4 linked regions of the Homo sapiens genome follow. The protein of the gene in region 1 purifies or fractionates together with the protein of each later gene. This does not show direct contact. Each region holds a gene or a part of one and is shown in the gene's direction. Other genes may lie near its edges.

Region 1 (7,885 bases):
AGTAGAGACGGGGTTACACCATGTTGGTCAGGCCAGTCTCAAAATCCTGGCTTCAAGTGATCCATCTGCCTCGGCCTCCCAGAGTTCTGGGATTATAGGCATGAGCCACCACCTAGCCACAATAGGAAGATTTAAACAGGATCAACTGTAGTAGGCCAGGCAATAATAATAATAATAGTGGCTTTAGGGTGATAACAGTAAGCTAGAGAGATGTGAATAGATTCAAGAGATATTTACATAATTGGATATTTATAATCATAAAACATTTGCTTTATTTTATATTTAATAATATACATATATAAAATAATTATTCAACCAAAGTTTTGAATATATATGTATTTTTTTGGCAGAGAGCTCTGAAGCAATTGTGTGGGGGGGTGTGTGTGTGTGTACATATATATATATTTTTTTTTTTTTTTTAACCTGAGACAAGGTCTCTATCGCACAGGCTGGAGTGCAGTGGCGTGATCTCGGTTCACTGCAATCTCTGCCTCTCGGGTTCAAGTGATTCTCATGTCTCAGCCTCCTGAGTACCTGGTATTACAGGCATTCGCCACCACGCCCAGCTAATTTTTGTATTCTTAGTAGAGGCGGGGTTTCGCCATGTTGGCCAGGCTGGTCTCGAACTCCTGGCCTCAAGTGATCCACCCGCCTTGGCCTCCCAAAGTGCTGGGAATACAGGCGTGAGTCATCATGCCCGGCCAGCAATTGAATATATTTTTAAAAAGTACTTGTGACTTCCAAAAAGTTGACTGAATTCTTCATTCTGCAGAAGACAGTGTTCTTTGCTTGTGAGTTTTCTTTTCCCCAGCAAGGCATCATAATCGACCAAGGAGTGTCATGACTAGAGAGTGATAACACTTCAATCTCATTCTTGTTGGCATTAATTTAAAAACAAGTGATAACATGAGAATTGCTTTCTAAATTATCAGTTTGATTGATAAAGTTTCATCTGGAAGTCTTTAACCAAGGTTGGCCATAGCTGGGTTTCTGGCTACCACCCATTGCTAACCTGAGGGTTAGAAAAGGTAGCAGCATCTAGCAAAATTCACTTCCTCCCCTCATCCCGGGCCTCCTGGCCCCCATTTATCTCACCCACATCCTGAACATGAGAAAATAGGAAAGAGCCCTAGTCCCTCTTGTGCCACCATTTGTCTCTGGCACTGCGGGGCCTGCGTTCACAGGATGGCATGCAGGAGAGGTGGGAAAGGAATCAAGATGACAGAACTGACTACCCAGGATCCTGAAAGAGCTGTGACTTGTTTCCAGTGAGTCAGCCCAGGCTTGAGCCAGATAATCCTGAAACCTCATTTCCCACCCTCAAAGCACCAGGGTAATAGCACAGACAGGTATCTGAGCTTCCTAACATGAGATTAAACTCTGCTTCCACCATGACTCCCATGGGATTTCCACAGCCAACTAACTGGAAGTCAGGAATCATTTTTCTTTTTTTTTTTTCTGGGTTTTTTTTTTTCTGTTTTTTTGTTTTTTTGTTTTTTTTTTTTGAGGGAGAGTCTCGCTCTGTCACCCATGCTGGAGTGCAGTGGCACCATCTCAGCTCACTGCAACCTCCACCTCCTGAGTGCAAGTGATTCTCCCACCTCAGCCTCTGAGTAGCTGTGATTGCAGGTGTGTGCCGCTATGCCCAGCTAATGTTTTTATATTTTTAGTAGAGATGGGGGTTTCACCACGTTGGCCAGGCTGGTCTCAAGCTCCCAGCCCCAAGTGATCTGCCCGCCTCGGCCTCCCAATGTGCTGGAATTACAGATGTGAGCCACCGCCCCAGCCAAGAATCATTTTTCGTAAATACTAAAAGTACCATTCAATTTGTGTATAGAAACTAACAAGGCTGCATTACTCAAGGACTTTTAAACTCATTTTAGCATGATTAACTTGGCTCCTACAAGTAGGAGCTGTTGGAGAGGTTCTGTCTGGCATTTTAGGAATAAGAGGGAGAAGTGAGTAGTTTCAGATTGTGCTATAAAGAAGAAAGAAAGAACTTTCTGTGGAATATGGGACATAAGTATAAACATTAAGTCAGTCACAATAGAGATTTCCTACTTTTTCTAGTCTGGAGTTAGCCCATCAGGATTGGAATTCCAGCTCCACCAGTTTATAAATGTGCAATCTCTGGCAAGTGGTTTCATCTCCCTAGGCCTCAGTTTTCTGCCCTGAGTGAGAGAAGAGAGGAGAGTAAAGTACCCACCTCATAGGGTGCTTTGTCATGGAAATTAAATGAGATCATCCCGTGGAAGGCACTTAAAACACTGTCTGGCACATTATTTAATAGTTGGTGTCGCCCTGATTCCAGCTGCTGCTGGGAGCCACTTGTAGTCGAGCTTGAAGTGAACAGGCTGTCTCAAGACCCTGAACTGTGATTTATGGGGAGATACTCACACTTGTACTCACTAGAGAGGGCCTGGCGCTGGAAGAACACAGCTTGTTTGGTTGCTTGCTTGCTTGCTTGCTTGCTTGCTTGCTTGCTTTTATTTTTTATTTTATTTTTTTTGAGACAGAGTCTCACTTTGTTGCCCAAGCTGGAGTGCAGTGACGTGATCTCAGCTCGCTGCAACCTCTACCTCCCGGATTCAAGCGATTCTCCTGTCTCAGCCTCCCAAAGTAGCCAAGACTACAAGTGCCTGCCACCACGCCCGGCTAATTTTTGTGCTTTTAGTAGAGATGGGGTTTCACCATGTTGGCCAGGCTGGTCTCAAACTCCTGAACTCCTGACCTCAGGTGATCCACCTGCCTCAGCTCCCCAAAGTGCTGGGATTACAGGCGTGAGCCACCGTGCCCAATCAAAACATAGCTTTCTTCAAAGAAGCTTGGGTTGAGTCAAACTCCCCACTGCCCTAAACTAGAGTTCTCCTGCCATCTAGCGCCCAATGGCAGAAAATCGTTAAATTCTAATGACGGCCCCATTCCTTTGTTCCTCCCCCACCCCCACCTTGCACCCCCATGCCTGACATGGCTTTCTCTTCAGCCCCATATGCCAAGCAAACACCCACTCATTTCAATTCAATTCAAAGCCTCAATTCAAGCCTTATCTCCTCTAAGAAAACTTTCCTGAGGAACCCGGATGGCTCACTCCCTCCTTGCCAGCCTGGACCACCTCCTCCAGCACACCTCTTCCAACACTGCCCCTTCCCCTTCTCCACGGAGTGTGTTTCCCTTCTCCACTGACACTCCCCTCTGGACCCGCACCCCTAGCTAATGTATTCGATAAATGAATGCACACGACAGTACTGTTATGGGTGGGACAGTGAGGCATTCCAAAAAAAAAACTGCTCCAGGAATTCAGAAACAGTTTCATGTTGCTGGCATGTAAGTGCTTCATTGATGACTGCTTCATTGATGATCTGTAGCCCCTGCTTTGTCTCTGAAGTTCATTTTTTATGAGAAATAAATGCATAAACATACATCTACCCTGTGATCCAACAATCCCATTTCTAGATATTTACCCAAAAGAAAAGAAAATCTGTGTCTACAAAAGACTTGGTCCAGGACTGGGTGGTGGTGCATACCCGTAATCCCTTTGATAGGCAGAGGCAGGAGGATAGCTTGAGGCCTGGAGTTTGAGACCAGCCTGGACAACATAGCAAGATCCCATCTCCAAAAGAAAAAAAAAATGGTCAAGGATGTTCATAGTCACCACTTTATTCATAATAGCTACTAAGTGGAAAAGACCCAAACACCCATCAGCAGGGGAATGGATCAACAAATGTGGGCCGGGACCGATGCCTCATGCCTGCAATCTCAGCACTTTGGGAGGCCGAGGTGTGTGGATCCCTTGAGCTCAGGAGTTGGAGACCAGCTTGGCTAACATGGTGAAACCCCGTGTCTACAAAAAAAAAAAAAAAATTAGCCAGACGTGGTGGCACATGCCTGTAATCCCAGCTACTCGGGAGGCTGAGGCATGAGAATCACTTGAACCAGGGAGGTGGAGGCTGCATGAGCCGAGACCACATCACTGCACTCCAGCCTGGGTGACAGAGTAAGACCCTGTCTCAAAAAACAACAACGACAAATGTGGTATGTCCATTCAATAGAATACTACTCAGCAGCAAAAAAGAACCAACAACACAGCTCAATCTCGAAAGCATTAGGCTAAGTATTTTTCAGCAATATGCTAAAAAAGCCAGACAGAAAAGGAGTACTTATTGGATAATAACATACATATGACATTCTAGAAAGAGAAAATGTAATCTACAGTGACAGAAGCAGACCAGTTAGGGCAGGGGTGGGGAGATGGGGTAGAAAGGACGGAGATTGGGACAAGACAGAGTTTGGGTTTTTATTGTTGTTTAGAGACAGAGTCTCACTCTGTCGTCCAGGCTGGAGTGCAATGGCGTGATTTCGGCTCACTGCAACCTCTCCCTCCCGGGTTCAAGCAATTCTCCTGCCTCAGCCTCCCAAATAGCTGGGACTACAGGCATGTGCCACCACACCCGGCTAATTTTTGTATTTTTAGTAGGGACGGGGTTTCGCCAGGTTGGCCAGGCTGGTCTCAAATTCCTGAGCTCAGGTCATCCACCTGCCCACGGCCTCCCAAAGTGCTGGGATTACAGGCGTAAGCCACTGCGCCCGGCGGACAGGGTTTGTTAAAACTCATCAAGCAGCACGCCTAAGATCTGGGCATTTATCTGTATGTAAATTACATTAAATAATTTTAAAGAATGTAAAGGGAGGGACATGGGAGGGAGGAGGAAAGGCAGGCAGCAGCCGCAGGGCAGGTGTCCCAGTGACCGGTTCCCAAGCGGGAGGAGGGCGGTGGGCTCGCGGACACCAGCATGCAGTGGCTCCGTTCGGCCGCCAGGGGGGGGCGTGGGCCCTGGAAGGGCAGGCGGCGAAGGGCGGCGAAGGGCGGTGAGGGGGCGGGCCCGTACGCCGATTCCATATGGGCGCCGGCGCGGAGCGCCGCGGGGCAGCGCGGGGTCGCCATGGCTGAGCTGCAGCAGCTCCGGGTGCAGGAGGCGGTGGAGTCCATGGTGAAGAGTCTGGAAAGAGAGAACATCCGGAAGATGCAGGTAGCGGGGCTGGGGCCGAACCAGGACCCCCTTCTCAGCGGGTGGGTTCCGGGCCCTTCCCTCAGCCACCACGCGACGCCTTGCACTGCAGCCGCGTCCCCGCAGACCGGGTGTGGGCGGCCCTGGGGTCGCCGGGGCGGCCTCGGACAGGACTTCGGAAGCTTTGGCGGATCGGATGAAATCCGTGTGCCCTTGCCGTGCGCGAGGCTGTTTTCCGCCCCTTCCAGCCCGGGGCAGGAGCGTCCTCGGCGGCAGGTGGGAAGCCCCTGGTGGCAGGCGCTCGCCCCACCACCTTCCCCTCTTACGCGGCCCCTTCCGCAGGTGAGCGGCCCGAGGCCCAGCAGAGGCGCTGCCAACGTGAAAGACCAGAAAGGCGAGGACTTCCGGCCTCCCCGTTGGCCAGGTCATGCCTGCTTCTCTTGCGCCCAACCTCGCTTCACACAGCGCGGGTTTCTACACTGTTCTTCTCTGAGCCCCGCAATGCCTCTGTGTGTTTCGGTCCTGCTTCTCTCACGGAGTATGCGTTTCCCAGATAGTGCCCCTTGAGTCATTGATTAGTGGGTCGGCTGCCCTCTGGTGGAATTTGTATTGCTAGGTTGCTGACCTCTGAACCCCATGGAAGAGGCTCCTGGTTTTCAGAATTTGGCTTCGTCAGACCACCCTACCCTCACCCACTCGGGCGAACCTCTGTTCACCCAACCATCGGTGCAACAGGTGCCGATGAGCTAGCAGCAAGGACACCATGAAACACTACACTAGACATTGAGGATAATTTTCCCCAGTGGTGGTTTTAAGGTCCTGGTGTCTATTCTCAGGGAAGGTGAAAGCAGAAGGTGGAGAGAGAGGTGCAAATATCCACGTGGCCTTCTAACTCCTGTAGTGCTCCATAGTCATCTCTGTCCCCAGAGACTTTCCTACCTAACCTCTCTGCCCTTTCTCCCCAGGGTCTCATGTTCCGGTGCAGCGCCAGCTGTTGTGAGGACAGCCAGGCCTCCATGAAGCAGGTGCACCAGTGCATCGAGCGCTGCCATGTGCCTCTGGCTCAAGCCCAGGCTTTGGTCACCAGTGAGCTGGAGAAGTTCCAGGTGAGAAATATCCTAGACAGAGCACTGTAGTCCTTGATACAGACTTTTGCAGGAGATGACAAGCATTTGTTCAAAACTCTTGGCTTTAGTGTCTTGGTTCTGTTAACAGTTGTGATACTGATGGCCAACCAGTTTTCACAGGGTTTGAAATTTTGGAAAAAGTCTTGGCGGTCGAGTGCCTTAAGTTGAACATCATTTCCTATAGAAATGATGTAGGCCGAGCGCGGAGGCTCATGCCTGTAATCCCAGCACTTTAGGAGGCTGAGGCAGGTGGATCATGAGAGCAGGAGATCAAGACCATCCTGGCCAACATGGTGAAACCCCGTCTCTACTAAAATACAAAAAATTAGCCAGGCGTGGTGGCACGCACCTGTAGTCCCAGATACTAGGGAGGCTGAGGCAGGGGAATCTCTTGAACCCAGGAGGTGTAGTTGCAGTGAGCCAAGATCGCGCCACTGCACTTCAGCCTGGCAACAGAGCGAGACTCTGTCTCAAAAAAAAAGAAATGATGTAATGGGGAGTTACCAGGGGAGTTCATGACCAAGAGCCCTTATGCAGTTTGTTGGGGAGGAGGCGTTTGTTTGTTCCTTTTGACATAACCACCAAATACAGAATGTATACTGTGTAGTATAAAGTTTCCTGGCTGGACGCGTAGCTCGCGCCTGTAATCCCAACATTTTGGGAGGCCGAGGCGGGTGGATCACGAGGTCAGGAGTTTGAGACCGTCCTGGCCAACATGGTGAAACCCCATCTCTACTAAAAATACAGAAATTATCTGGGCATGGTGGCAGGTGCCTGTAATCCCAGCTACTCGGGAGGCTGAGGCAGGAGAATCGCTTGAAACTGGAAGGCGCAGGTTGCAGTGAGCCAAGATCGCATGCCATTGCGCTCCAGCCTGGACAACAAGAGCGAAACTCCGTCTCAAAAAAAAATAAATAATGTTCAGGCACGGTGGCTCACACCTGTAATCCCAGCACTTTGGGAGGCCGAGGCAGGCAGATCACGAGGTCAGGAGATCCAGACCATCCTGGCTAACACAGTGAAACCCCGTCTCTACTAAAAATACAAAAAATTGGCCAGGTGTGGTGGTGGGCGCCTGTAGTCCCAGCTACTCGGGAAGCTGAGGCAGGAGAATGGCGTGAATCCGGGAGGCAGAGCTTGCAGTGAGCCAAGATCACGTCACTGCACTCCAGCCTGGGTGACAGAGCGAGACTCCGTCTCAAAAAATAAATAAAATAAAAATAAAAAAATAAAGTTTCCTAAAACATATATTATTTTTAAAACAGCAGAATCTCTAGAAAGGTAGGATAGCCTTGAAAAGGTACAGATTCGAGGAACACCCTTCCACCATTTTGTGGACTTATACACCCACCCAGGACTGCCCCTAGTTGCTATACCCAGAGGGCAGCCCCTCTGTCACTAAGGAGCAGTCATTTATGTGAATCATTATTACTGTTGACTCACTGATTCCTGGCTCACAAGCCCCTCTGAGGTTACCAAAAGAGCTCCCTGTTTCCCTCTCTGGAGCAAAGAGTATCCACAACTTCATTTTACTCCCATCTTCTAAGTATATTTTTCTGGAACCTGGGGGAAGCAAGCCTACTTCCAAGCCAGCCTTTCATAGCCTGAGGTTCCATCCACATGGAAACTTATACATAATGTGACACATCTTTACATTCTTCCATTCAAAACGCTTCAAAGTTACTGCCATTATGAAGGAATAACTTCTTCAAGATCATGGAACCCCAAAGGGTTTCTTTGTGTTCTTTTTGA
Region 2 (7,023 bases), on another chromosome or scaffold:
CAAAATGATATAATTTGTAAAAATACTTAAAAGTAAAAACATTTTATTTGTATTATAATCCTAGAAAATTAATTTCCATTTATAAATAGCACTAGAAAAACTATTAGTGACATTGTCAGTGGTAATAAACTGGTGAGAATATGCTCTACCAAAATAATGAAGTGATTCTTTTATGATGGTGTGAATAAAATTAATATTGATCTGTTTGTGTGCATGATCCATTCTGACCATATATGTGGTATGGGAATTGAGAAGCTTTTAGGATTTGCAGCCTGTTGATTAGAAGCAATACAATAGCAGTTTATGTATATAAGTGGGACTCAAGGTGACCAAACTGAGAAAATTAGAATGAAGTTGAGGAATAAATGAGAAGATATAAACAAAAATACACCCTTCTCTCTCAAAGATTACATAGACTTTAGTTATCCTAGAAATATGAAGACAATTATATTTTGGGTCATTTCTGTGTTCTCTTACAGTACTGTGCATAGGTTTTAAATAATATTCAGAATAATTCAGTAGGAACAGAAAATATGCTAAAGAATCAGTAACAAAACAGTTTCACCTGCTCTCTCAATTAATTTTCACACCCACCTCTGAAGTAAACAACCCATCTGGTAAGTGGTATAATTGGAATTTAAACTCAAGTCTGACTTTTAGGTTCATGCTTTCTTCTGTTTTACTACATTCCATGTAAACTGGGGAGAAGGCACATGGTTGGACCTAGAAAAAACACTGAAAGTCACCTGTCGGTAGGTGATGATTGAACCTCTGAGATTGCTGTGGGTAAGGCAATAGACTGTTGAATGGGTTCCTGTTTGACGACTGTAATACTATAGTTGTCTGTCCATAGCCACGGGTTCTGCATCTGTGGATTCAAGTAGCTGCGGATTGAAAAATTAGGGTGGGAAATTGGATGACTGTGTCTGTACTAAACATGTACAGACATTGTTTCTTTTTAGGAGACAGGGTCTCCCATTGCCCAGGTTGGTCTCAAACTCCTGAGCTCAAGAGATCCTCCCTCCTTGGCCTCCCAAAGCATTAGGATTACAGCTGTGAGCCACTGGCCTGACCAGACTCTTTTTTCTTGACACTTTTTTCTTTTCTTTTCTTTTTTTTTTTTTTTTTTTTTTTTTTGAGACAGGGTTCCACTCTGTCGCCCAGGCTGGAATGCAGTGCCATAATCATAGCTCGCCACAGCCTCTATCTCCCAAGCTCAAGTGATCCTCTTGTCTCAGCCTCCTGAGCAACTGGGACTACAGGCACATGCTACCATGCCCAGCTAATTTTTAAAAATTTTTTGTGGAGACAGGATCCCACTATGTTGCCTAGGTTGGTCTCAAACTCCTGGGCTCAAGTGATCCTCCCTCCTCAGCCTCCCAAAGATCTGGAATTACAGGCATGAGCCACCATGCAGGGCCTTGTCATTATTTTCTAAACACTACAGCATAACAACTATTTACATAACATTTACATTGTACTAGGTATTATAAGTAATATAGAGATGATTTAAAGTACACAAGAGGATGTGTGTAAGTAGGTTATATGCAAATACTATGCCATTTTATATAAAGGGCTTGAGTATCCAAGGATTTTGGCATCTGTGGTGGGCGGGGGCTGGGAGGTTCCTGGAACCAATTACCTGCAGATATGAAGGGACAACTGTATGTTTGAATTCAGAATGAAAACATTTAGCATATTTCACATTGTACACCAAAAGGCTGTATATAATATGTATCGCCTCTGTTACTATCTGTGGTTTAAAAGAGAAAGACATCATTCTCAACTCAGAAATTAATAGTTACATTTGATTTTCACTCACAGCTGGTCAACAACTCTTAAAGCCTGTGTTTGTAAGACAGAAGGAAATTAAGTGCATAAAGCACAAGCATGTAAATGTTGATTCTTTGCTTTCCTAATGCTTCCCCACTTCTACTTTCCCATCCCTGCACTCCAGTTTGATATCAACCCAAGATACCAACACTTGTTTCACTCTGTGTTATCCCTTGTTATGCTCTCTAGCCCAACAAAGCAGTTTGCTGTAATGTGCACACACCTGACTTTCTATCTCAGTCTTCCTCTATTTCATAAATGTTTAACACTTCATATTTATTATGTACGATGTGGGATTCTACATTGTACAGGACTGTCTCCACCCATCATAATGAGCCTTTTAATCTAATAGGGGAGTTAAAATACATATTTACGTTTGCTAAGTATGAGGCTTTAGATTTCAATGTCTTATAGGGGATGCAAGCTAAATGTTATAAGAATATAGGAAAGGAAGGAATTACTTTTAACTGGAAACAGAAGAAAGTTTATAAATTGCTAGGTTAGGGAAAAGAGCTATTCTGTCTAGCCTTGTGGACTAAAGAGAAAGCTAGTAATTTCTTTTCTCAGATGAGATATACTTAAGCAGCTTAGCCTCTGGTAATAGAAACAAAACATTTTTATATAAGTATAGAGGTAAATTCATACCTAGAAATACTCATGTGAACTGTTATCTCATAGTTTGCTGAAGGCTGTTGTACTTCTCTTCTGAGCATAGAACTTTGGAATATGGCCTGGAAATTTAATACAAATCTGAAACCATTTGACATTTTTAATAATGTATACTTGGGGAAATATTCAGACATTGCATGCTATATGAGAGAAAATGTTAAATCACTCCTATCCCAATTTCATTCCCTTAATATATAAACAATTGTTGTTACATTTTTAACAAAAATTTTAAAAGAAATTTCTGTAAGTAACAAAATAATCCACTAAGAATTTCTTCTTGACCTCTTAAGGGAGGTACATAACCCCTCTAGGAAAACAGAGCCTCTGCCTGGCTTGCATTTCTGTAAAACGCCTAGTGCCTAGGCTACAAGTGGATTGCAGGAAATGTTTTTACCTTTCTCCCCATCTCCCACTGCTAATTGATGTGTTTATTCAGTTATCTGAGTCAGCCCTGTTGAGAATAACGCTGTGAGAGAATTCATACTGTGTACTTGTGTGCCAGAGTCTCATTCCCAGCAGGCTGGGGTGGAGAATGGAGGCTGGAGTAAAACGAGGAGGCTGAAAGGAGCAGTGTCAGAGCAGGAGAAAGTCGCCTTGGCCTTGTTAATCCTAACTTGAAAACTCTATCTTTTAGCTTTTACCAATTATTTAGTAGAACTTTCTTATGGATTCCTGTGAGATTATATTTATGCCTGATGTGGGCATAAGACCTTTGGTGCTCTTATTGTGTTTCATTCACCAGTCCACCTGAATTCCAATTCAATTCTTTTTCATGTCTGTCTTCAGGCCAGTAGATTCAGCGAGGGCTTCTGAAGCAGTATGTTTCATATGGCTAGAGAGAGACAGAGAGATAGAGCATTGAATAATTTGAAGGGGAAGGGAGATAACTATTTTATATCTCTCGTCAGATGCCCAGAATAGCTATAAAGACATCATAAAAACTATCCTAACCTAGAAATAACGTAAAGAAGTTATATGGTGATGGGTGACGAAGATAGACTTTTTCCAAAAAAATTTAAAGTTTTCATAACATATTTTCTAAGAACTAAAGAGAGGGGTTTTTTTTTTTTTCTATCTTTTGAGATGGAGTCTCACTCACTCTGTTGCCCGGGCTAGAGTTTAATGGCAGCGATGTCAGTTCACTGCAATGTCCTCCTCCTGAGTTCAAGCGATTCTCCTGCCTCAGCTTCCAAGATATCTGAGATTAAAGGCATTTGGCACCATGCTTGGCTAATTTTTGTATTTTTAATAGGGATGGAGTTTCACCATGTTGGCCAGGCTGGTATTGAACTCCTGACCTCAAGTGATCTGCCCGCCTCAGCCTCACAAGGTGCTGGGATTACAGAAGTGAGCCACCACACCCAGCCTTTTTTTTTTTTTTTTTTCCCTTAAGAGACGTGGTCTTTCTGTTGCCCAGGCTAGGGTGATGCAATCATGGCTCACTGCAGCCTCCAGCTCCTGGGCTCAAGCAGTCCTCCTTTCTCAGCCTCACAAGTAGCTGGGACTACACATACCACCATGCCCAGCTAATTTTTTAAAGTTTTTCTAGAGACAGGGTCTCTTTGTGTTGGCCAGGCTGATCTTGAACTCCTAGCCGCAGGCAGTCCTCCCATCTCAGCCTCCCAAAGTGCTGGGATTACAAGGGCATGAACCATTATGTCCAATAGCAGGAAAATTTTTATGTAAAGCAATTTATTTTTATTTTTATTATTAATTTCTGTTACAGAATCTTCATTCCTGCCTTTACCAGTTTGCAAGGGCTGCCATAAGAAAGTATTACATAACAATATAGCAATGTATTTTCTTACCATTCTGGAGGCTAGAAGTGCAAGATCAGGGTGTCAGCAGGGTTGGTTTCTTCTGATGTCTTTTTTGTTGGCTTGTAGATGGTCATGCTCTGTGTCTTCACATGGGCCTCCCTCTGTATGTGTCTGTATCCACATTCCCTTTTCTTATAAGGACACCACTCCAATTGGATTAAGGCCCACCCTCATGACATCACTTTAATTACCTTTTTAAAGACCTTATCTTTAAAAACAGTGACATTTTGAGGTACTGAGGGTTAGAACTTCAACATACGGGTTGGAGACTGAGCACAACTCAGTCTATGACTCTGCCCCTTCCCACTGATAACTGTAATCAGTTCATCACTTTTTATCTAGACTGTGGCAGCCCCCCACCCCCAATTCTCTGCCTTTTTTCTTTCACCACTATTGTGTAAAGCAGTTTTTATTACCAAGTAGAAATGATTCTTGGACATTGGAGACAGCTGAATTTTGAAGTTGTTTAACTTTTAAATGGAAGAGAGTTATGAATTTTTGTTTCAAGGTAGGTCACTACCATTCTCTTAAGAGTAACACAGTAATTCAGTGTTTCAGAATATTGGCTTCCCCTTATTGATGATATATTTTTTGTCATTCTCTTTAGTATTAAAAACAATATATTTGTATAGGTTTTATTACAAAAGTAATATATGTTTATTATTGGGGCACAAGGAAACTTTTGGGGGTTTTGGATATATGTGTTGACTATCTTGATTGTGGTGATGATTTCATGAGAATATAAGTGCATATATCAAAACTTACCAAATTGTATACTGTAAATAAATAAGTGCTGTTTATCATATGACAGTTATATCATAATAAAACTGCTTAATTTTTTTGCTGATTTGATGACTAAAGACTTGGACTTACTTTGATGTTAATGTGAATTTTCGTGACAGTTAGTGAGGTTGAGCATTTTTATTAGTTGTTTGTATTTCATTTTCAATGAATTGTTCAGATACACAGTTTGCCTGTTTTTCTCTTGGGATGTGTGTGTGTTTGTGTGTACATGTGTGTCTGTCTTGTCAACTTGGTTAACCCACTCTGGGACTAGTGATAATAACCCAGCATCTCTCTTACCTTTTGCTAATATTTTCTCCTAGTTGATTTTTCTTTTTTGTTTTTCGTATTTTTTAGGGACAGAGTCTCTCTCTGTGGTATAGGCTGTAGTGGCTTGTGGTCCAAAGTGGGCTCTCCACCTACTTTTAATTTAAAGGAAAGATTTTTGCCCCTTTGGCATCTAGTCCACTTAAATATGGTTGTGGGCCTGTCTAGTAACTACACATTAACAAAAGTGAGTGTGTGTGTGTGTGTGTGTGTGTGTGTGTGTGTGTCTGTCCACATACATATATCTATGTGTGTATGTGTAATAATATTTTCTCCAATCCTGGAGCAATAAGCATTCCATTTTACCTATGCAGTGAGAGAATATTCAGAGAATTCCATATACTCACTTTAAAAATAGTTACGTAACAAGGATTCAAAGTCACTTTTTCTTTCTCTTGTTGTTTGTTTTAGGGTAACCAGGAGCCGACAACAACTCCTGACGCAATGGTTCAGCCTTTTACTACCATCCCATTTCCACCACCTCCGCAGAATGGAATTCCCACAGAGTATGGGGTGCCACACACTCAAGACTATGCCGGCCAGACCGGTGAGCATAACCTGACACTCTACGGAAGTACGCAAGCCCACGGGGAGCAGAGCAGCAACTCACCCAGCACACAAAATGGATCTCTTACGGTACGTGGACCATGAGGTGAAAAATGGAAGGATGCATGGCAATCATATAGAAATTGTCGCCTTAATTATACAATTAGAAGACTCTCGGAATTAATTTAGCATTTACACCTGTTCTCATTTACACCTTCTCTCAACAGCATTGTATACATTGTCCTCCCTCCTCCTAGAAATACTTAGTCTCTTGGCTTTTCGAGCTCTCCCAATTTTCCTGCCAAGCACTGGGTGTTCTGCTCCTGCCTCCTTCTCTGTTCAACTTTTAAATGGTGCAGTACTCCATATGTAGGTCCTGGAACCCCTTTTCTTTTTATTTTATATCCTTTCTCTGCATAATTATACTACCAAACTCAAGCAAAACCTAGGAATATTCTTTCTTTCTTTCTTTCATCTGTACATCTAATTGATTAGCAAGTCTTGACAACCATAACTCTAAAACTACTTCGTCTTCTTCTCTACATCTTATTACTCTTCCACCAAATTGCTTGTGTTTGAATCTCAATATGGCCCCTACTAAACTGTGTGACCTTGGACCAGTTATTTAATCTCTCTGCCCTTGGCTCACTCTAAAATGAAGATAATAGTACCTACCTGAAGAGGCTGTTAGGAAATTTAAAAGAATTTATCATCATCACTGCTCTAGTCCAAACCTCATCACTTATTTCCGGTATTACTGTTGCCTAACTTATCTATCCTCCACATAGGACTAAGGTGGTTTTTTTTTTTTTTTAATGCAAATGCCGATTTCCTACTTAACTCTTAATAGTTCCCTAATGCAATTAGAATATAATCTGAACTCCGTACTTGGTTTACTAGTCTCTAGCCCCAGCTTACCTCTTTGACTTCACCTCTTACTACTAACTTGCTAAAGTAAAGGAAATGTCATAAATTAATAATAGGTATATATCTCATACATACCAACATATGGGAAATTGTATTGTCTCTTGCTTTGTTGTCCAGG
Region 3 (7,605 bases), on another chromosome or scaffold:
GCAATAAATCCCTTTAAGGAAAAGTAGTGTTTATTTCCAAGAGCAAGAGGTAACCCTGGCCTTTGATGTAGACACGGTCCCTCTGAGTACACATGTGATGAATGCTGGCAGACTCCATGGAACACAGACCTATTGGTGGGGGGTCTACTGGCTATGTCTTAGGAACTTACCTTCATTCATTTAGGCCTTAGCAAAGATCACAGTCTATGAAGTTCATGGGCAGTGCTGGCACAGAACCAAGTGAAGGTCTCCAGGCATAACTAGAAAGTGGTGAAGAGCAAAGTTGAGAAAAACAAGCTATCTCTATTGTCAGATCAAATAATTCTTCTTTTTAAAAACCCTTCCATGGCTTCACATTTCAATTAAAAGAAAATGTCACTTCCTCCTCATGGCCTATGGCATGATCCAGCCCCAACATCACCTCCTACTATTCTGCCCCCAACTCATTCTGTGTGGGCCACACTGGTCTTTCCCTGTTCTTTCTGATCTCAGAACATTTTACCATGGCATTCTCATTGTCTGGACCACTCTTTGCATTGATCTTCACATGGCTGGGTCCTTCTCAACATTCAGGTCTCAGCTAAAACGTCACCCTTCTCAGAGAGGTCTTTGCTGACAACCATATCTGAGAAGGTATCCTGAGCTCTCAATCTGTATCGTGCACACTGATCATCTGGGGATCATGTTACAAGACAGACTTTGACTCAGTGGTTCTGGGGAGGGACTTGAAATTCTGCATTTCTAACAAGCTCCCGAGGAATACAAATTTTCTGCTCCACAGATCATCTACCCACAGGGGTGGGTAGACCCCCATGCCTCAATCTTTGTCACACTACCTGTGTCATTTAATTGGTGGCTTTTATCAGGATCTTAAATTATTTATTTATCTGTTTGTGTTGGATTGTTTGTTGTCCAATCTATTCATTTACTAGAATGTAAATTCCCTGAGAGCAAGGAGTCTGTCTAGCACTTTTAAATTCTCAGCACTTCCCACAGTACCTGACACATCATAGGTGCTCCATAAATATTGCTGAATGAGTGAAACATCACTCATTCAAGATTCATTGACTCTGTGATCCCTTCCAGTGTCTGCTTCTGACTGCTTCAGTGAGCACTCAATTATACAACAGAAACTACACTGTAATGATAGGGCAGTGCTACCCAAGTGCCAGTCCAGAAACTGCTAGTTATTGGCCAACACTGAATTAAGAATCTTGTACTATAATATAAATCTGCTATGCCACTAAGCACAATTTTATCTGAGATGAGACATTTTTCATAGTAAGACTTTCTGGATGAGGCAAGCAATGCTTTGCCTTGCCTTGTGGTGAAAGCTCCTCATCTCATATTAGAAGGGTAACAGTGTGTGAACTGGTCCCCACTGGCAAGACACATTTTGAGTTGTGCTGATATAGCGGATATAAAGCCAAATAAGATCTATTTTTTAACTTCAGAAAATCCATACATAGGTAAGAGAATTACACATTCAAATACATAACTGCAAATCTTTTGTCAAGTGCTATAATACGGAATTAAGTGGAAGAACTCAGGAATTGTAGAAAAAAACAAATAATTGGTCTTTTGTGCTCCCCCTTAGTCACACCTTTCCTGACACCTGCTCTCATTATAACCACAAACCCTCCCACCATACCCCTTCCTCCTGATCACATACCACTCATCTGGGCATGTTCTTCCCCTTGGGCCCTGAAACACTGAAGTTACAGGACCAGGCTTGGGTCTTCTGAGAAATTGTGAAAGGGAACTGAGAATTGTGGTAGAGAACAGAAAATGATAGGAGAGATAGGGAATTGTGGGAGAAGGGAGAATTGCGGGAGAGAATAAAGTATCATGAGAGAACAGAGAATTGTGAGAGACAATGTGGAATTGGGAGACAGACTAGGCAGCTGTGAAAGAGAACAGAATATTGTGTAATAAGGGAGAAGTGCAAGAGTGGAGAATTGTGAGACAGAGCAAAGAATTGTAGGAGATACGAGGAATTATGGGAAAGACAAGGAATTATGGGAAAGAACAGAGACTTGTAGGTGAGACAGGGAATTGTGGGAGATAATAAAGAAAGGGGGAAGACATCAGGAATTGTAGGAAAAAACAGAGAATTGTGGGAGTGACACAAAATTGTGGACACACGGGGAATTGTGGGAGAGAAGGGAGAATTATGAAAGAGAAGAGATTATTGTGGGAGAGATGGGAAATTGTGTAAGAGAATAGAGTATTGTGAGAGAACAGAATGATGAGGGAGACTAAGGAGTTAGGGGAGAGACTACAGAATTGCAAATGAGGATGGAGAATTTTAAGAGAATGGAGGACTGTGAGTGAAAGTGAAGAATTATCAGAGAGAAGAAAGAATTAGGAGAGAGATGTGGAATTATGAGAAAGACAGGAAATTGTAGCATATGACACAGAATTGTGGGAGAGAGCAGAATTGTGGGAGAGACATAGATTTGTGGAGAGGACAGCACAAAGAATTGTGGGAGAGACACAGGATTGTGGGAGAGAACAAAAAATTGTGGAAGAGACACAAAATTGTGGGAGAAAAGGGACACTTGTGGGATAGAAAATTGTGAACGAGAATATTGTGAGAAAACAGAATTATGAGAGAGAATGGGAGTTAGGGGAGAGACTGGGGAATTGTGAACAATCATGGAGTATTTTGAGGGAATGGAGAATTGTAAGAGTGGAGAATTCTGCGAAAGAACAAAGAATTGTGGGGGAGATGGGGAATTATAGGAAAGATAGGAAATTGTAGCATAGAATACAGAATTATGGTTGAGATAAGGAATTGTGGGAGAGAACAGAGAATTGTGAGAGGAAACCAAAAATTGTGGGGAGAAACATGGAATTATGGGAGACACAGGGAATTGTGGGAGAACAGAGAACTCAGGGAGAGACAGGAAATTGGGGGAGAGAACAGAGAGTTCTGGGAGATACAGGGAACCATGGGAGAGAATACAGTGTTGTGGGAGAGACGGAATAATTATGAGAATGAAGGGAGAATTGTGGGAGAAAGGAAATCATGAAAAAGAATATTGTGAAAGAACAGAATTATGAGAGATAATGGGGAATTATGGGAGAGACTGGGGAATAAGAACAGAGTATTGTGAATGAACAGAACATTGTGGAAATGAATAATTTTGAGGAATTGTGACAGACAGAGTCATAGGGAATGATGGAAAAGACAGAGAACTGTGGGAGGAATGGAACTGTGGGAAACAGAATTTTGAGAGATACAAGAATTTGTAGGAAAGAATAAAGGCTTGCTGGGAAACCCAGCAAATTTTGGGAAAAACAACAGAATTACGGGCAAGACAGGGAATTGTGGGACAGAAAAGTGAATTGTGGGAGACACAAGGAATCATGGGAGAAACAAGAGAATTGTGAGCAAGACAAGGAATTGTGGGACAGAAAAATGAATTGTGGGAAGGAATAGAATTTTGGGAGTGACATGGGATTGTGGGAGAAATAAGGAATTGTGGGAGAGACAGAAGATTGTGGAAAGAACTGAGAATTGTGGGAGACAGAACTGTGGGTAACAAAACAGAATTGCGGGAGTGAAAAGGAATTGTGGGAGGGACAAAAGAATTGTGGGTAAAGAGAGAAGTTGAGCTGTGATAGTTGAAATGGAATCCTTGGGCTATCCTGTAGGCAGTTCTGATGCTGGGATGGCCCTTCTGAGTTGTCCCCTTTGGGGCTAGGGGCCTGGACTTATGTGCCCTTGCAGAGACCCTCATAGGATGCAGATCGTCCCCAAGGAGGGGAAGTGATTTTGTGTGAGGCAATTCTCTTAGGCAGAGGACAATTCCTGGAGACTCAGCTGAAAGCTGTGAGCCCCCAACACTTTCTGCACCAGGGGACATCTGGACGTATTTCACAGAGCCACTATAGTTATATAGAAAGATATATGTTTCTTTATTAACACTTTAAGTAACAAGATCAAATTACCTTAATTTCAAAGTAGTGGATGGATGATATTTTGAGACAGGCACAACAACCATATGTGACATAATTTATCTGTAATGTGTATTAGTGCCACATACAGCTAATAGTACTAGGATTTATTGCCTACATCCCTGATGGAAGAAAATGCTAAATTTCTGTTGGAGGTAAATGAAAATACAGACATTCAAAATCACATACCCAGTTAAGAAGAATTTAGCAGCCAGAACACTGTCTTGTTCACTTTTGGATCTCCACCACCGAAGTTATGGGCACCTACTAACGTTTCTTGAATCATTGCTACAATTAAAACCGATAAGATTTAAAAAAAAAACAAATTTAAAAACTCCTCCAAAGCACTCCTTCTGCCGCATAAAGCATACATAGTAGAGCTCTTCACTCTAGGGAAGCCTCTGGAGCAGACAACCTTCCCTGCCACCGCCACATTTTGAAAAAGGCTCCTGGCCTGGAGGGGCGGGCCCAGAAAGCGGCCCCCGCAGCAGTTACAGGCCGGGGCGAGGAGGGGACGGAACCCGCTCTCCGTGATTGACGGAAAATATTACTCTTCAGCCCGCCTCCCGCGTGCCCGGAAGTCCCGCCTTCTAAAAAGGAAGTAGGGGTGCGTGAGAACGCCGGCGGTGACCGCAGCCACAGCGGTGACCGAGTGAGAGGAAGGCGGCGGCGGCGGCGGCGGCGGCGTGAAGTCACTGCTGCTCTGGGTTCGGGTTGGCGACTGAAGGCGGTACCGGCCTCCCGGAACAGCCCGGGGGAGGGCTTAGGTGCAGAAGGGCAGGCTGGCCGCGGCCGGTTTGGTCTGGGGACCACGGGCTGGAGCAGGTGGGCAAGCGCCGGGACGGTGTGGGGAAGACACTTGGCAGCTTCTCGACCTCTGGTGTCCCTTCGTTTCTTCGAATTCCTATTCATGCGCCGCACCCTTCTCGGACCCCCAGCCCCTCGCTAAGGCTCTGGGGATGGGGGTCAAGTCTAGGCTCAATGGACCTCCCCTCCTCCACCCGGGTCACCACTCCTCGGAAATCCTCGCCCCACTCCCGCCTCAGGCCTGTACCTCCTGGCTGTGACGTGGTTTCTCAGCGACTGCCTCACCTCAGTCCCAAAATCCTCACTGCCTTAGATACATACGTGCCCCCAGAGGTTGGCCTGGGTTTCACAGTATTTCCCTAAGGGGGCAATATATTAAAGCTGTCCTTCGAAGTTAGTACCCTGCCTGGTAGATGCCCATGGGATGACAAAGAGGAGGAACAAGGGTTGACCAGATTAGGACTAACGAGAGAATAGTCTGAGTCCAGAGACATTAATCTGTCTCTTTGTTTTGGCAGGTGGAAATTTAAAATTGTTTACAGTCAACACTGTTTCCAGCCATGGGTTTGTCTCCATCTGCTCCTGCTGTTGCAGTTCAGGCCTCAAATGCTTCAGCGTCCCCACCTTCAGGATGCCCGATGCATGAAGGGAAAATGAAAGGTAATCGGCCCTTTGCCTAGAAAATAAAAACAAAAGATAATTCACGGCTGGGTGCGGTGGTTCACGCCTGTGACAGCACTTTGGGAGGCCGAGGTGGGTGGATTGCTTGAGCTCAGGACTTCGAGACCAGCCTGGGCAACATGGCAAAAACCTCCCTCTACAAAAAAATACAAACATTAGCCAGACGTGCTGGTGGGTGCCCGTAGTACCAGCGACTTTGGAGGTTGAGGTGGGTAGGATCGCCTGGGAGGCCAAGGTTGCAGTGAGCCAAGATTGTGCCACTGCACTCCAGCCTGGGTGACAGAGTGAGACTGTGTCTTAAAAAAAGTCTGGAAAGCCTCTAAAGGAAGAGGCAGTGTAGTATGCTGCTGAGGCTGGTAGGCATGGGAGTCAGGCACCCTGGGTCTGGTCGTTATTTTGCGTCTTATTGAGGTTTGTGACTCTAAACAAGTTAACTCTGTTAGCCTCAGTCTGTCATCTGTAAGATGAAGATATAATAATGTTTCACAGGCCTGTCATGATGATTGAGGTAGTACATGAGAACGTAGTGAGTACTCTAAACCAGCCCCAACTTCCCAAAGTTTACTTGTGCCTACATCAGTGGTTCTTAACTGGAGGGGGGCAATCCCCCCTTCCCACAGGGGACATTTGCCAATATCTGGAGGCATTTTTGGTTGTCACAACTGAGAGGAAAGTGAATAGAGGGCAGGAGTGCTCCTAAACATCCTACAATGTACAGAACAGCCCCCCAACAAAGAATCAGCTGGCCCCAAATATCAAGAGGGCCAAGGTTGAGAAACCTTAGTCTAGATCTAGCTGTCTTAATAAATAACTTTTGCTCGTATAGCCATTTCAGTATTTTCGTATATAAAAGTAAGCCATCACTTAACGGGCTTGCTGTCCATTCTTTAGATAAGAAAATGAAAATGGAAAAGCTGTCTTTCATTTTTAATTCATTCATGTCTACTTTAGATTTTTTATATTAAAGTGTGGCTTGAATCAGTAAGTCGTGAAGGGCAGAAGCAACATGGTGTGCTTACTGAGTACTAATGTTTGCGCTGTTATTCATTTCTTCAGTCAGCCAGCCTATTCTGAGAGGTCACTGCCCATTCTGTACCAAGCATTGCTGGATTTTGTTTGTTTCTGCACGAGAGAATAACATCATACAAAATGGAGCTTTGCCTGATAGAGCTTACATTCTCATCTTCATAAGCTATGTGGTCTTACGACTTCATAAGCTAAGTTTTCTCCCTATTTTATAGTCAAGGAAACTAAGACTTGGAGTAACTGATGCTCCAAGTCACATAGTAAGTGGCAAAGCCAGCAAAAGTTCTGTGACCTTGGACAAGGACAGGCAGTGTTCTTCTGGGGTTTCTTTGTACAGGAAGAATTGAGACAGATCAGCCAAAGCAGGTGTGCTCCTGTTCTGAGTGTCCTCAGGGAGATTCTAGAACCCTTACTTTGGTTTTATTTCATTTGCTGTATATCTTGGAGAGCTGCCAGACTTACTACATTAATAAAGAATGTGGGTGTCTATAGGAGATCGAAGGGGCTACTGGTTATATGACGTGAAAAGTTGAAATGTTATTTTCTTTGTAACACCCAGCTGGGATCTATGACTTGGAAAGGATTGGTGCTTTCAGTGGTAGAGAGGAAAGGCATAGCAAGTCTTCCTTCACCCCTAAAGTGGGCAGTGGCACAGGGCACCAGGAAATGAGGGCTTGGGAGGAGAAGTGCAGGGAAGGAAGTGAAAGCAAACTCAGCTTTTTCATGTGTATTGCTGTAGTTGCTGCTGCTGCTGCCTGAGGCCAAGATTCCATTACATGAGCAGCTGTCTTCTGTGTCTCAGCTCTCCAAGTGCCTGCTCATTCTCTGAACCAGTTTCCCAGTCCCTCACTAATTGGGATCAGCATCCTGGGTCTTTGGGCATAGCCCTTGCTATTGCTCATCTCATTAGGCTCAGACCTTCCCTCGTAATGGGCATCTTGATCCTGTATGGGTTGTGGAATATTTTCTTTATTGTCTGTCTTTTCCTGTTAAACTCTTGCCATTGACTGATGGGAATAGGCCATAGGCCACGTGGTTTTCCTGTGCCTTGTTTCAGTCTTGAGACAAAGCAGAGTGGCATTCAGATTTTTTTGCAGTAGCCTCTGTGATGTCTCCTCTGTTCATTTT
Region 4 (7,023 bases), on another chromosome or scaffold:
CTCCCCCAGGCTCACATGTTTAGAGTCATCCAGCATCCATTTCTCTAGACTCAGAAGGTTCCTGGCCATGTGGACTCTGGGTCCCAGTTGAATGGGTTGAAGAATGATGGACAGAGGGAGAGGTGAAGACAGCAAGTGCAGGCAGGTGAGGCCGTGATGGGACTGAGACTGGAGGAACAGATTAGAGAGGGTTCCTGAGGGGAGACGAGATTGTCAAACGTTTTTAAACAAAGATGGGAGAAGGATCTGGTAGGGTAGAGGATGGAGGTTAAAAGAAAAAGTCTTTCCTGAGTCCCTCAGAAGGACTCAGCAACACCTTTGCTGACTGGTAACATCCGACCCAGTGGTCTCCAGTTAGAACTACTCCAGGCTACAAGTCCTTTGGAAGCTTGTAGAGATTTGACAGCACTGGGATGACAGAGGTCAGGATTATGTGTCACTGTGTTGTTGGTCATATCGACAAGTCACTGAATAGTAGTGCGTATTGCAGTGTGAACTGGAAAATGAATTACAGTGCATCCCTACCTTGGGCCTCGCCTGCCACGCAGCCTTAGGAAAGAACAGGAAGCTATGTTCTGATAGAGGAGCCATTCTAAGATATTGTGGAAGGAATAACCATGAGATGTAACAATGTGTATATCTTATATATGTACAAGCAAGACAACAATGTATAAGATACAGCATCTTATACTACATCTAGTGTACTGCCATCTGTGCTTTTAAAAGCCAGGGTGGTGGAGAAGTCTGTATTGATGTTTTCTTGTATATCCATGGAGATACTCTGGAGGGGCCCCTGAGAACCCAGCCCAAGTGGCTAAGAGGGCAGGGGGATCCTGTGTAAACAGGATCAGGCTGTGGGGGGCTTTCACCTTAATATCTTTTATATTCTTAGGTTTTTGAACCATATGTATGTATTATAACCTCTTTAAATTTTTCAAAAATATAATTAAAAAAAAACCTCTAGCAATTAAAATATTATTTCCACCAGTTGAATGAAAGTCAGGTTGTTTTGCCAGGGAGGTTATTTGGCTCCTCTGAAATGTCCATTCATGAGTTTTCTGGTGGCTTTGGCTTATTCTCTTTCACTTTGGAGGAAATATTTCTGATTCATAATTCTTCATGCTCCGCCCTCAGAGAACTTCTGCCATTGCTAATGCTACTAGTAAAGTCTGATCTAGTTTTCTTACATTTCATTCCTTTTTTCCCCATCCACTCTACATTCATCACCACATTGGATCATATTTGGACAATTCATACAGACAGGAGGATAATTATTTGCATTCTTAACCAGGCACAGTGGTTCATGCCTGTACATCTCAGCTGCTTGAGAGGCCAAGGTAGGAGGATCACTTGAGGCCAGGAGTTTGAGACCAGCCTGAGCAACATAGCAAGACCCCATCTCAAGACCCTGGCAAAACACAGTTGCTGCTGTTGAGCTGTGACATACGAGGGAACGTTGGCAGGATGCTTTATGTGGTGGGGGAGAGGAGAGCTATCTTCAGCTGCTTAACAGGGCTGTTTGAAAAAGGAGTGGAACTGGAACAAGTAGATGGACTTTCTGATAGTCCCTCCCAGGGCAGCTAGAAACAACTCCTGAGTGTCCCACAGGGGTGGTGGTCTGAAGTGGTGGCTGCCACACAGCTCTATGACCCGCAGAGAAGGCTGGCTGCATCCACGTGTCTATCCAGTTTATCTTGCATTTGGAAAAAGAAGTTTCGACTAGATGGCCTTGACTCTAATAATAAGATGTTTTCTTGATTATTTTCCTTTTTTCTTTCGGCTTCTCAAACCTGGAATAGATACTCTCCATGAGACCCATTCTGTCTTGATTCTGTCCTTTAAAAAAATCTCTAACTATGTAGCTTCCTTTCAATAAGTACCTCTCCATCTGTATTTTTTAGGCAAGGTGAAACAAAAGAGTGACTTTCTTGTCAGAGCTTGAAAGAGAGCAAGTGGCTTTAAAAGTAGACTTTGGCTTTCTAAAGGTTCTAAGTTTTAATATTCTTATATTCGTTTAATCCTAAGTGTGTAATGAACATCTTTATCCAATTCAAAGATGACACCTGGGAGTGAACTGGTGGTGGGACATCACAGACTACTGTGATTTCAAACTCTCGGCAGGTACATCTCCGTTCATGGATGCATTAACAGCCAATGGGACAACCAACATACAGACATCTGTTACAGGAGTGACTGCCAGCAAAAGGAAATTTATTGACGACAGAAGAGACCAGCCTTTTGACAAGCGATTGCGTTTCAGCGTGAGGCAAACAGAAAGTGCCTACAGATACAGAGATATTGTGGTCAGGAAGCAGGATGGCTTCACCCACATCTTGTTATCCACAAAGTCCTCAGAGAATAACTCACTAAATCCAGAGGTGAGAGGCGCTCTTGGGCTGGCGTGGGCTTCGCGCTTCTCCCTGCCTGATTTCCAGGCCTGCCTGGCTGAACTGGCTCTTCCTGTGCTCTTTCTAAACCTCCTTTTGGGCCATCTCCCGATGCCCACCAGAAGGGAGGGAGCAGAGGGGAAGTTGCGGGCTTTGCTCCATGTCCCACCTCCAATGGCCGTGAATTCAGGATGCTTGGCCTGTGCTGAGTGTCCATCCCCATTCTCCCGGGTGTGGGTCCACCCAGGCCTCTGTGCCTCTGTGGTTCACCTCCTGCCTGGAAGCTCTTCATCTGGCGGGCACGGGGCTCCATGAAGGCACGTGGGAAATGTGTGTGCACGCGCTTTGCTTTAGCTTTCATCAGATCCTTAAAGGGTTCTTTGTTCAGACAGAATTTAAGTGCCCCCGGGGATCCCAGTCCCTTCAGAATATTTATCATCTTTCCAGTCCCCAGATACTCCTCAGCGGTTGTAGCAGAACACACAGCAACAGGGATTTCCACACATGCTCATTGCTGATAGTGCCTAGTAAGTAAGTTTTCCAGAACTGGTTGTTGGAAAGGTTAGAACATGAATTTTGTGAAGTTTCTAGAATCGGGAGTATTTGAACCTAACCTATATCTTTCCAAAATTTTAAGTCCTAGTAGTTTGTGAGTAGCTAGGTTGAGTTTTGTCCAGACAAGAAAACTTAACTACAGAAAGTCTGTGTGTTCGCCCGGGGTCACATAACAAACCAGTTCAAAGTTGGTCCTTGGTACATTTTTAGACTGCAGAGTCCCTTCATTGATTATTTTTAAATGCTTCACAGAGATCATTTAAAATGATTTTATGCCCTAAAATTACCAGTCCATGCTAATGTGCTTGGACTTAACGCACTTACGCACCAAACTATTTTCTGTCCCAAGTGTAATAGGGTAGTTTTTAAAACAAAACAAAACAAAAAACAGTAGAACTGAATGAGTTTCTTTCAACTGGTTTGAATGTGCCACCTGCTGTCCAAACTGGAGAAATGCCCAGTGATATAATAAGCAACTTGCCTTATCTAAGAGCCGCAATTTGCCTTATCTAAGAGCCGCAATGGCTGTATAAATACTAAGATAACGTAGATTCCCATGTCTTTTTAATTATACTCGAGTTATGTAGTTATATTTTACTCCATCCCCAGCATCTCAATCTCTGGTTACAGAAAATGAGACATTTGCAAATTAATTAAAATCATGGTAGATATCAGTAACTGTATCAGGCTATGATGCATTTTTCACAGATGCAGATTCTCCAGTAATAAAATGCTTTTAGGCAGGGTGCGGTGGCTAATGCATGTAATCCCAGCACTTTGGGAGGCCAAGGCAGGAGGATCACTTGAGCCCAGGAGTTCAAGACCATCCTAGACAACATAGCAAAACTCCATCTCTACAAAAAAAGTTGAAAAATGAGCCAGGCATGATGGCACAAGCCTATAGTCCCAGCTACTTGGGAGGCTGAGGCGGGAGGATTGTTTGAGCCCAGGAGTTCAAGACCACCCTAGACAACATAGCAAAACTCCATCTCTTACAAAAAGGTTGAAAAATGAGCCAGGCATGATAGCACAAGCCTGTAGTCCCAGCTACTTAGGAGGCGGAGGCGGGAGGATTGTTTGAGCCCAGGAGTTAGAGAGCACAGTGAGCCTTGATTAAACCACTGCACGCCAACCTGAGCAACAGAGTGAGACTCTCTCCAAAAAAAAAAATGCTTTAAGATTTTAAACCCAAAATATTCTTTGCCACTTTAACTTCTGGTGACTTTCAGGTAATGAGAGAAGTCCAGAGTGCTCTGAGCACGGCCGCTGCCGATGACAGCAAGCTGGTACTGCTCAGCGCCGTTGGCAGCGTCTTCTGTTGTGGACTTGACTTTATTTATTTTATACGACGTCTGACAGATGACAGGAAAAGAGAAAGCACTAAAATGGCAGAAGCTATCAGGTATGTAAAAATGATGTTTTTTAAACATTGGTTGGGTGTTTTGTTTTTGGTAAACCAATCCTGATAGAATGGGCCTGACCAAGCCTTGAGAATAAGATACACATCTTCTCCCATGGAGAGACACGAGCAGCAAAATTAATTAAATCATCTGTCTCTTCTATGGGCCTGCCATAAATTACTACTTGCCTTGGGCAAAATCTTTTCTATGGGCCTGCCATGAATTACTACTTGCCTTGGGCAGATAACTGATTTCAAGGTTGGTTTAAACCCTGCAAGTGTTCGGAGAATGTTCTGATGATTAGAGTAGATGATCATGGGTAGCCAGAGTTCCTATTATTTGTGCCGTGAGTATGTTCTGTCCTCAACCCCTAGATAAAGATCTCTTCCAAATAGTAAGTTACCATTTGCTCGACTCTGAAGTAAATTGTCTAGGCTTTATGATGAGATAGCTCCGTAACACCACATGGAGAGTTTTGTTTTTTGGTTTTTTTTGTTGTTTTTTTTTTTTGTTTCTTTAAATACAAGTAGTGCACATTCTTGTTCAGTTTCATCCTAAGTTCCAACTGGACAGAGAACCAGATAGTAGGAAATAAAAAGCAGAAGTCCTCCTTGTCCCTCACTCCCCTCAAGGTATCCAACATTCATTGGTGTGTCTTCCCCAACCTTTTTCTGAACATTTTGTTATAATTTTCAGTTTAATTTTTTAGACTTACTTTTAAACTCAGAAGTAAAAATTGTATATACTTATAGTGTACAACATGGTGTATTGAAACACGAATACATTGTGGAATGGTTAAATCAAGCTAATTAGCATATGCATTACCTCACATACTTACTATTTTGTGTGTGTGGTGAGAACACTTAAAATCTACTCTCAGCAATTTTCAAGTATAAAAATACATTAACTGTGGTCACCATGATGTACAATAGATGTCTTGATCTAAGCATTTTCAAATTTTTATTTCATATATACACACAAATAGTATCAATTTAGTTCTGTTGTTGCTTTGCAACTTGCTTTTTTCATGTGACAATATGACTTTGAGATATTTCTATTTCCTTGGTTGTTGGATTTTCCTCTGCTATATGATAACATATATCAGCAAAACTTTCTCTAAAACCACTTAATTCGTCTAAAATCATATCCCCTCATTTATCATGCTAATCACTCCATGTATAATTAGAAGTGTCTGATTTTTCGGAGATGAATTTTATTTAAAATGGATGAAACCTAGTCATCAACATGAAAGTTGGCTATGCTTCTCTACTCACCTCCCTAAAATGACATATCCCCAGGTGGCCCCCATAAACCCTTTGTGCTTGCCTTTTTAACTTACAGAGGATGAAAAATGAAAGAAAACGTAGACTGGCAAAATGGCAGTAAAGTAAGTTGGATCTTTTCCAAAATCCCAGATTTCTGGAGGGCTGAAGTTGAACTACTTTTGATAGTTACTAGGCTCCAGCTGAGCACTGCCCTTGGTGCACTGGGCTTTCTAGCACCTAAACCCTTCTAGAGCTTGCACAGCAGGATTGGTGTGGTGGGTAGGGGGGCTCTTTTTTCTGTTTTGTTGAGTCTGGGGTAGGCAGGGACGTCTTTCTTTGACTGACACCCAAGATGGCTCTGATGGGCACCAAACAGCCCATCACAGGAGTCCTGGAACCCACACCTCTGGGTTGAAGGGGATTGCCTTAGCCTCTCATGACATATTTAATCATTTTCAGAATTACTATATTTTCTCATATGATGTACACATGTATTTAGGAGGTTATCCCTTAATCTTTTGAATGTTACCTTTTACAGGCTATCACATTATGTGTGGTTTTTTTCAGAAGTGGTTTGAAATTTTATAGTCTGATCTTATTAAGTATTGTTTCTAATCTCCTAGGGGATTTCATCCCTGTGGTACACTAGGTGGGACCATCTTGTTCTTCAGTTTAAGATTAAACTGCTTGATCAGTGTCATAAATCCTTGGCTGACTCTCAGCGCCTCTAAGACAGCTTCATTATTATCCATTCAGGGTGAATTCCATGAACTTAACTTTTATTTTTAAAATACAAACCACCATGCCTCCTATGGTCACTTTGCATGTTCTCCATAATATCACGCTGAATGTACACATAATATTGTGCTTTTTGGTAGCTCTGCGGTCATAAGAAAATCGGATGTGTCAGCCAGTGCCTTCTGGGTCCTGGCTCCGTTTTCCCGTGTAGGCTTTTCCCTGGCTCCACTTGTGAGCCCGCTGGTGCCTCGCCGGGTGCAGCTCACTCCTCCCTCCAGCGTTGAATTCCCTTGGACAGAGGCTGTGGGCTTGTGGCGCTGGGATCAGTAAAAGCAGAGGAAAGCTAGATCCAGCCAGGTTTAAGTGGAGATCTCCTTTGTTGAACTTGATGTCACTTTAAAAGTTCACTTTCATCAGCTCCCTGCTCCGTCCACTCTCCCTACTCCACACAAAAAGCTGGATTGATATTCTTGTGAAGAGCCAAGTCCTGCTTTAGGAAAACCAACTTGTTTCTTCTTTATGTGACTATATTTTTGTCAATGTGAATTTTCCTTAATGTAGTCTGGCAAGATCAGAAAAATAATTAGTTACACCAGAGTCACTTAACCTTTCCTTTTCTTATTTGCATTTAAATTAATTTTTATGTGGATAAAAGCTCTTCCTGTGTATATTTTTCAT

What was found.
Region 2: the proteins of FAM136A (region 1) and RBFOX2 purify together in Homo sapiens (affinity purification with mass spectrometry; 3 studies listed by BioGRID and IntAct, with this or other methods). This does not show direct contact.
Region 3: the proteins of FAM136A (region 1) and HCCS purify together in Homo sapiens (affinity purification with mass spectrometry; 3 studies listed by BioGRID and IntAct, with this or other methods). This does not show direct contact.
Region 4: the proteins of FAM136A (region 1) and CDYL purify together in Homo sapiens (co-immunoprecipitation; 3 studies listed by BioGRID and IntAct, with this or other methods). This does not show direct contact.

The regions. Positions count from the first base shown.
Region 1 is NC_000002.12:70,299,067-70,306,951, reverse strand, and holds the start of FAM136A (protein FAM136A), read left to right. Parts: upstream 1-4,884; 5' UTR 4,885-4,940; coding exon 4,941-5,348; exon of another isoform or gene 5,349-5,971; coding exon 5,972-6,112; intron 6,113-7,885.
Region 2 is NC_000022.11:35,808,825-35,815,847, reverse strand, and holds part of RBFOX2 (RNA binding protein fox-1 homolog 2), read left to right. Parts: intron 1-5,843; coding exon 5,844-6,068; intron 6,069-7,023. UniProt on the Homo sapiens protein: RNA-binding protein that regulates alternative splicing events by binding to 5'-UGCAUGU-3' elements. Prevents binding of U2AF2 to the 3'-splice site.
Region 3 is NC_000023.11:11,106,731-11,114,335, forward strand, and holds the start of HCCS (holocytochrome c-type synthase), read left to right. Parts: upstream 1-4,601; 5' UTR 4,602-4,788; intron 4,789-5,288; 5' UTR 5,289-5,330; coding exon 5,331-5,430; intron 5,431-7,605. UniProt on the Homo sapiens protein: Lyase that catalyzes the covalent linking of the heme group to the cytochrome C apoprotein to produce the mature functional cytochrome.
Region 4 is NC_000006.12:4,933,394-4,940,416, forward strand, and holds part of CDYL (chromodomain Y-like protein), read left to right. Parts: intron 1-2,121; coding exon 2,122-2,378; intron 2,379-4,171; coding exon 4,172-4,344; intron 4,345-7,023.